2 separate regions of the Homo sapiens genome follow, and region 1 is linked to region 2. Evidence: fine-mapped expression QTL. Tissue or cell type: aorta. Region 2 holds a variant in brackets; the other region holds the start of a gene. All regions are shown on one strand. Distances are between the middles of the regions.

Evidence for each region. PIP is the estimated chance that this variant, and not a neighbour inherited with it, causes the effect. A credible set is the group of variants that fine-mapping cannot tell apart.
Region 1: it holds the start of PRR22, and the variant in region 2 is the best candidate, but not a certain one, in a credible set for the expression of PRR22 in aorta (GTEx, PIP 0.89).

Annotation. Positions count from the first base shown.
Region 1 is chr19:5,783,141-5,785,892 of GRCh38, forward strand. It overlaps PRR22 (proline rich 22), which reads right to left and starts at 1,606. Exons shown (of 3, transcript NM_001134316.2): 1 at 1,391-1,606; 2 at 1,237-1,299; 3 at 1-913. The coding sequence starts at 1,520. DUS3L (dihydrouridine synthase 3 like) reads right to left here. Exons shown (of 13, transcript NM_020175.3): 11 at 2,463-2,651; 12 at 2,243-2,371; 13 at 2,000-2,135. The coding sequence ends at 2,063.
Region 2 is chr19:4,856,073-4,858,824 of GRCh38, forward strand. The region is part of intron 4 of PLIN3 (perilipin 3); the gene reads right to left. Among named protein-coding and RNA genes, the nearest start is that of PLIN3, 10 kb to the right of the region's middle. The variant G/A (reference allele first, on the strand shown) is at 1,614.

The DNA.
Region 1 (2,752 bases), 930 kb after region 2:
GGGTGGGGCGGCTGCTCCTCGTCGAGCGCCTTGAAGTTGAAGAAGTAGTCAACGTTGGACACGGTGTCCAGGATCTCAGGCACGCTGTAGTCAAAGGACAGCAGCTCCTCGGGCAGGCACAGCGAGCGGATGTCATCGGCTGAGTTCCCACCACTGCTGTCAGGCAGGGCCGGCCCAGGGACCTCGCACAGGGTACCCTCAGGCTCAGAGGCGCCTGGCAGGCAGTCGAAGAGCTTCATGGCGTCCTCCAGCAGAACCTTGTCAGGCAGTGCCAAAGCTCTGGCCGTCTTGGGGGCCTTGGCCTTGCCTGCTCCCAGCAGGGCCCCCTCCTTGACCTCGGCCACCTTGAGCTCGCTGAGGCCCGGTGGGTACAGGGGCACCCCAGGTCGGGCCCCACTGCCCTGCAGCTCCTTGACGGGGAAGGCCAGGGGTTCGGGCCCAGGGAAGTGGCCGAGGTGACCCTGGAGGTGGCTGTAGGCGTCTGGGGGCAGTGTGGGCTCTGCAGGCAGCGTGATGAGTACAGGGGGCGGCTTGTTCTCCTTGGGGGGTGGGGGTGGCAGCGGGGCCGGGCCTTCCTCTAGGGGCGGTAGGGGCAGCTCCACGAAGGCGGCGGGCCCTGCGTCCCCCACAAAACCCAGAGCCTCTGGCCCGGGGCCCTCAGGCGGGAAGTAGGGCAAGAGAAACTGGGGCCCCCCGGGTGCCTGCTGGTAGTGGGGGTATGGAGGCAGCCCCGGGGCCTTGAGGTAGGGCTGAGGCTCCAGGAGGTAGCTGCCTGGGGCGGAGGGGACCCCCGCTGGCCCCCCGCTGCTTGCTGCCAGCTTATACAGGGCTGACTGGCCCAGGTCGGGGGTGGTCCACTCGATCCGATAGATGCGGGGGTCGAAGAAGCACCCGCATGGGGCCATCTGGAAACCTGTGGGCGGCAGGCGGGTGCCCTGAGAGCAGCTGCTGCCTGAGGGGCCCAGCCCAAGCCTGGGGGCCTGTTTGGGAGATGCCACAAGAACCTTGCCATTGGGGGGCCCCTTTGGGGGACGACATAGATATTGCTTTGGGGCCCTGGCTGGGTGATGGATGACACAGAGCTTGTCTTTGGGGCTCATCTGGGGGACCTGTGTGAAGCATGGGGAGCAGAGGCCATGCCTTCAGGCTCCCACTTAGGGACGGGGCAGGGGCAAGATGGGCCTGCACACTCAAACCCACTCCCAGCCTCGTCAAGGGCTCAGGGGAGGCCGGTACCTGCTGGTGGGGCTGGAAACACCTCTTTCTCTGGGTCTGGGGGATGATACAGGTTCAAGGAGCCTGTGGACAAAGGTGCCCAGGTGGGTAGGGCCCTTAGGCGGGTGGGCCCCTGAACCCTCTCCAGCAGGTGCTCCCACCCACCCGATCGTACCCATAGCGGGAGGAGGCTCGGCACAGGTGGGAGCAGGCTGGTTGCCCAGCACCTCAGCCCCCTCCAGACTCTGCGGGCTGAAACCTTCCTGGGGAGCTGCAGGGGCACAGAACGGTTTGGGGTGCTGCATGGGGCAGCGGGGGGCCCGGTCCAGACAGGCCAGGAGGGCGGCAGTGGGAGTGCAAGTGGCCCAACCGGAGAACAGGCTGAGAACCTGGTGGGGTTCTGTTTGCCTGGTTACTCGGGGCAGCGGGTTCCAGCCTGCAGCGCGCCCACTGGTTGGGGTTCTGGGTGTTGGGGGCAAGCAGGGGCAGACGTTGGCAGACATGGTCATCACCATGGGAGGGAGGATTCTGGGCCAGGCCTTTGCCTCTTCCAGCAACACCCCCCTAACAGCTTTGAGGCCGCCTCCTCCAGGCAGGCTGCCCTGATCCACACCCACACAGGCTGAGGCCCCCCGGGTCCTCAACCCGCTACCTTCTTGGGGGTCAAGGCCTCTCTGGGCACCAGCAGCACCCAGCTTGGGGCAGGGCCCATGGAGGCAGCTAAGAGGTTTGGGGAAGGTGGGGGCCGAGGAGGGGCTGCTTCAGGGTCACAGAAAGGCCTGGATTTTAAAAGAATAAAATTTATTGTACTCTCCTCGCCCCAGGGTGCCCCTGGGAAAGCCTGAGGCTACTTGTACGCGTTGGCCTTGTGCTTCGGCAAGAAGGCGAAGCTGGGGGGCACTGGCCCAAGGAGCATCTCGCTGTGGGAGAGCAGGTGGAAAGCGAGGTCAGGCCCAGGACCTGCAAAGTACCCTCCGTGACCCCGGGCCCCCGACTGCAGCTCCCCAACTCCAGCCCACCCAGGCACCTGATGCGGATCCAGTCGGCTGCCTTCTGGCTGGCCATCAGCGTCTCCAGGTAGTCGCGGCCCAGGTAGTAGGGCGGCCGCTCGTTGATCCTCTGTGGGAGCCGCTCCAGCAGCCCCACGGGCACGTACCTGCGGCGGGTGGGCGGGCAGGACAGGCTTGAGTCAGCTCTAACCAGCCGCGGCCCACGCGCCGCCCACCCCAGCCAGCCCCGGTGCCCACCGGCACAGGAAGGACAGCCACTCGAGCAGAAAGCGCCGGGTCTTCTCCACGCCCTGCGTGTCCGAGCCCCAGTGCTCCAGGCCGTAGTTGGTGAAGTCCCGCAGGATGTCCAGGCGCTCGGACGACGAGATGTCCCAGTGCCGCTGCTCCTTGATCTCCGTGAAGAGCCACGGCTTGAGCAGGGCGCCACTGTGGGACGGGTGACGATCAGTGGGCCCAGCCACCAGCCTGCCTGGGATCGTGTGGCCTCTGCTTCCATGGCCTGGCCTGAGCCGGAGCCCAGACCACAA
Region 2 (2,752 bases):
ATAAGCTGCCTGTCCCTGCAGGTGGTCTCAGGGAAAGTCCAAGGATGCTGGGATGCGGCTGGCTTGTCCTGCCTCCAACCCAGGGATCACCTATTTCTGATGCTACAGACCCAGACACAAGCAGGTGGTACCCGAGGGTGGCCCTTCTGTAACCACTGGGCTGAAGCGGACATGGAGCACCTGAATACTTAATAAGCATCTATCTGCAGGGCGCGGTGGCTCACACCTGTAATCCCAGCACTTTGGGAGGCCGAGGCAGGCAGATCACCTGAGGTTGGGAGTTCGAGACCAGCCTGACCAACATGGAGAAACCCCATCTCTACTAAAAAGATAAAATTACCCAGGCATGGTGGTGCATGCCTGTAATCCCAGCTACTCGGGAGGCTGAGGCAGGAGAATCGCTTGAGCCCGAGAGGCGGAGGTTGCAGTGAGCCGAGATCGCACCATTGCACTCCAGCCTGGGCAACAAGAGCAACACTCTGTCTCAAAAAACTAAAAAAATAAGCATCTACCCTGTGCCAGGCTGCCTGCTGGGCACTGGACACAGCCACAAAGCAGGCAGCCTGTGCCCTGGTCCCAGCTGGGGAGACAAACAATAACCGATTAAGCCTCACACTTATCTGAAGGAGGGTGTTTTTTTTTTTTTTTTTGAGACAGAGCCTTGCTCTGTTGCCCAGGCTGGAGCGTGGTGGCACGATCTCGGCTCACTGCAACCTCTTGCCTCCCAGGTTCAAGTGATACTCGTGCCTCAGCCTCCCGAGTAGCTGAGATTATAGGAACTCACCATCACGCCTGGCTGATTTTTGAATTTTTAGTAGACACAGGGTTTCACCATGTTGGCCAGGCTGGTCTCGTACTCCTGATCTCAAGTGATCTGCACGCTTCGGCCTCCCAAAGTGCTGGGAGTAAGGCGTGAGCCACCACGCCTGGTCTGTGCCTCATTTTTTCATCCCAGGCTGTTATAGGTTGAATTATGGCCCCCTCAACCCCAAATTCTTATGTTGAAGTCCTGATCCCCAGGGGTAAGAATGTGGCTGTATTTAGAGACAGGGTCTTTAAAAAGCGGTGATTAAGGGAAACTGAGGTAGGGCACAGTGGCACACTCCTATAATTCTAGCACTTTGTGGGGCTGAGGCAGGAGGATTGCTTGAGCCCAAGAGTTGGAGACCGGCCTGGGCAATATGGCGAGACTCCGTCTTGACAAAAAGTACAAAAATTAGCCAGGCGTGGTGGATGCACCTAGTCCCAGCTACTCAGGAGGCTGAGGCAGGAGGATCTGTTGAGCCCAGGAGTCTGAGAACAGCCTGGGCAACATGGTGAAAACTCGTCTCTACAAAAAATTAAAAATAGCCAGGCATGGTGGTGCATGCCTGTGGTCCCAGCTACTTGGGAAGCTGAGATGGGAGGATCACTTGAGCCCAGGAGTTCAAGGCTGCAGTTGAGCCATGATCACACTACTGCACCCCACCCTGGGTGACAGAGTGAGAACCTGTCTCAAAAAAAAAATTTTTTTTTTTAATGTTAAGAGCCAACATTTGCTACAAGCCATGTGCTGTTCTGGGCCTTCAGGTGTTAACCCCAGGTCAGCATTGCCATTCTGTAGAAAAGAAAGT[G/A]GGACCCAGGCTGGGCCTGGTGGCTCATGTCTGTAATCCCAACACTTTGGGAGGCCAAGGCAGGTGGATCACCTGAGGTCGGGAGCTCGAGACCAGCCTGACCAACATGGTAAAACCCCATCTCTACTAAAAATACAAAAATTGGCCAGGTGTGGTGGCACATGTCTGTAATCCCAGCCACTCGGGAGGCTGAGGCGGGAGAATCGCTTGAACCTGGGAGGTGGAGGTTGCAGTGAGCTGAAACTGCACCAGTGCACTCCAGCCTGGGCAACAAGAGCGAAACTCCATCTTAAAAAAAAAAAGAGGGGGCCGGGCACAGTGGCTCATGCCTGTAATCCCAGCACTTTGGGAGGCCGAGGCGGGAGGATCACGAGGTCAAGAGATTGAGACCATCCTGGCCAACTTGGTGAAACCCCGTCTCTACTAAAAATACAAAAATTAGCTAGGCGTGGTGGCAGACGTCTGCAACCCCAGCTACTCAGCAGCCTGAGGCAGGAGAATCGCTGGAACCCGGAGGTGGAGGTTGCAGTGAGCCGAGATTGCACCACTGCACACCAGCCTGGCAACAGAGCAAGACCCCGTCTCAAAAAAAAAAAAAAAAAAAAAAAAGTGAGGCCCACAGAGGCAAAGTAACTTGTGTGAGGGCCACCCAGCTGCTGAGGGGCAGGACACAGTTTGGAACATGGTGTTTTTTTTGTTTTGTTGTTTTTGAGACAGAGTCTCGCTCTGTCGCCCAGGCTGGAGTGTAGTGGCGCGATCTCAGCTCACTGCAACCTCCGTCTCCTGGGTTCAAGTGATTCTCTTGCCTCAGCCTCCCGAGTAACTAGGACTACAGGCACACGCCACCACGCCAAGCTAATTTTTTTTTTTGTAGTTTTAGTAGAGATGGGGTTTCACTGTGTTTGCCAGGATGGTCTCGATCTCCTGACCTTGTGATCCGCCCACCTCAGCCTCCCAAAGTACTGGGATTACAGGCATGAGCCACCGCGCCTGGCCAGAATATGGTGTTTTTTTGGTTTTTTTTTTTTTTTTTGAGATGGAGTTTCACTCTTGCTGCCCAGGCTAGAGTGCAATGGCATGATCTCGGATCACTGCAACCTCCGCCTCCAGGGTTCAAGAAATTCTCCTGCCTCAGCCTC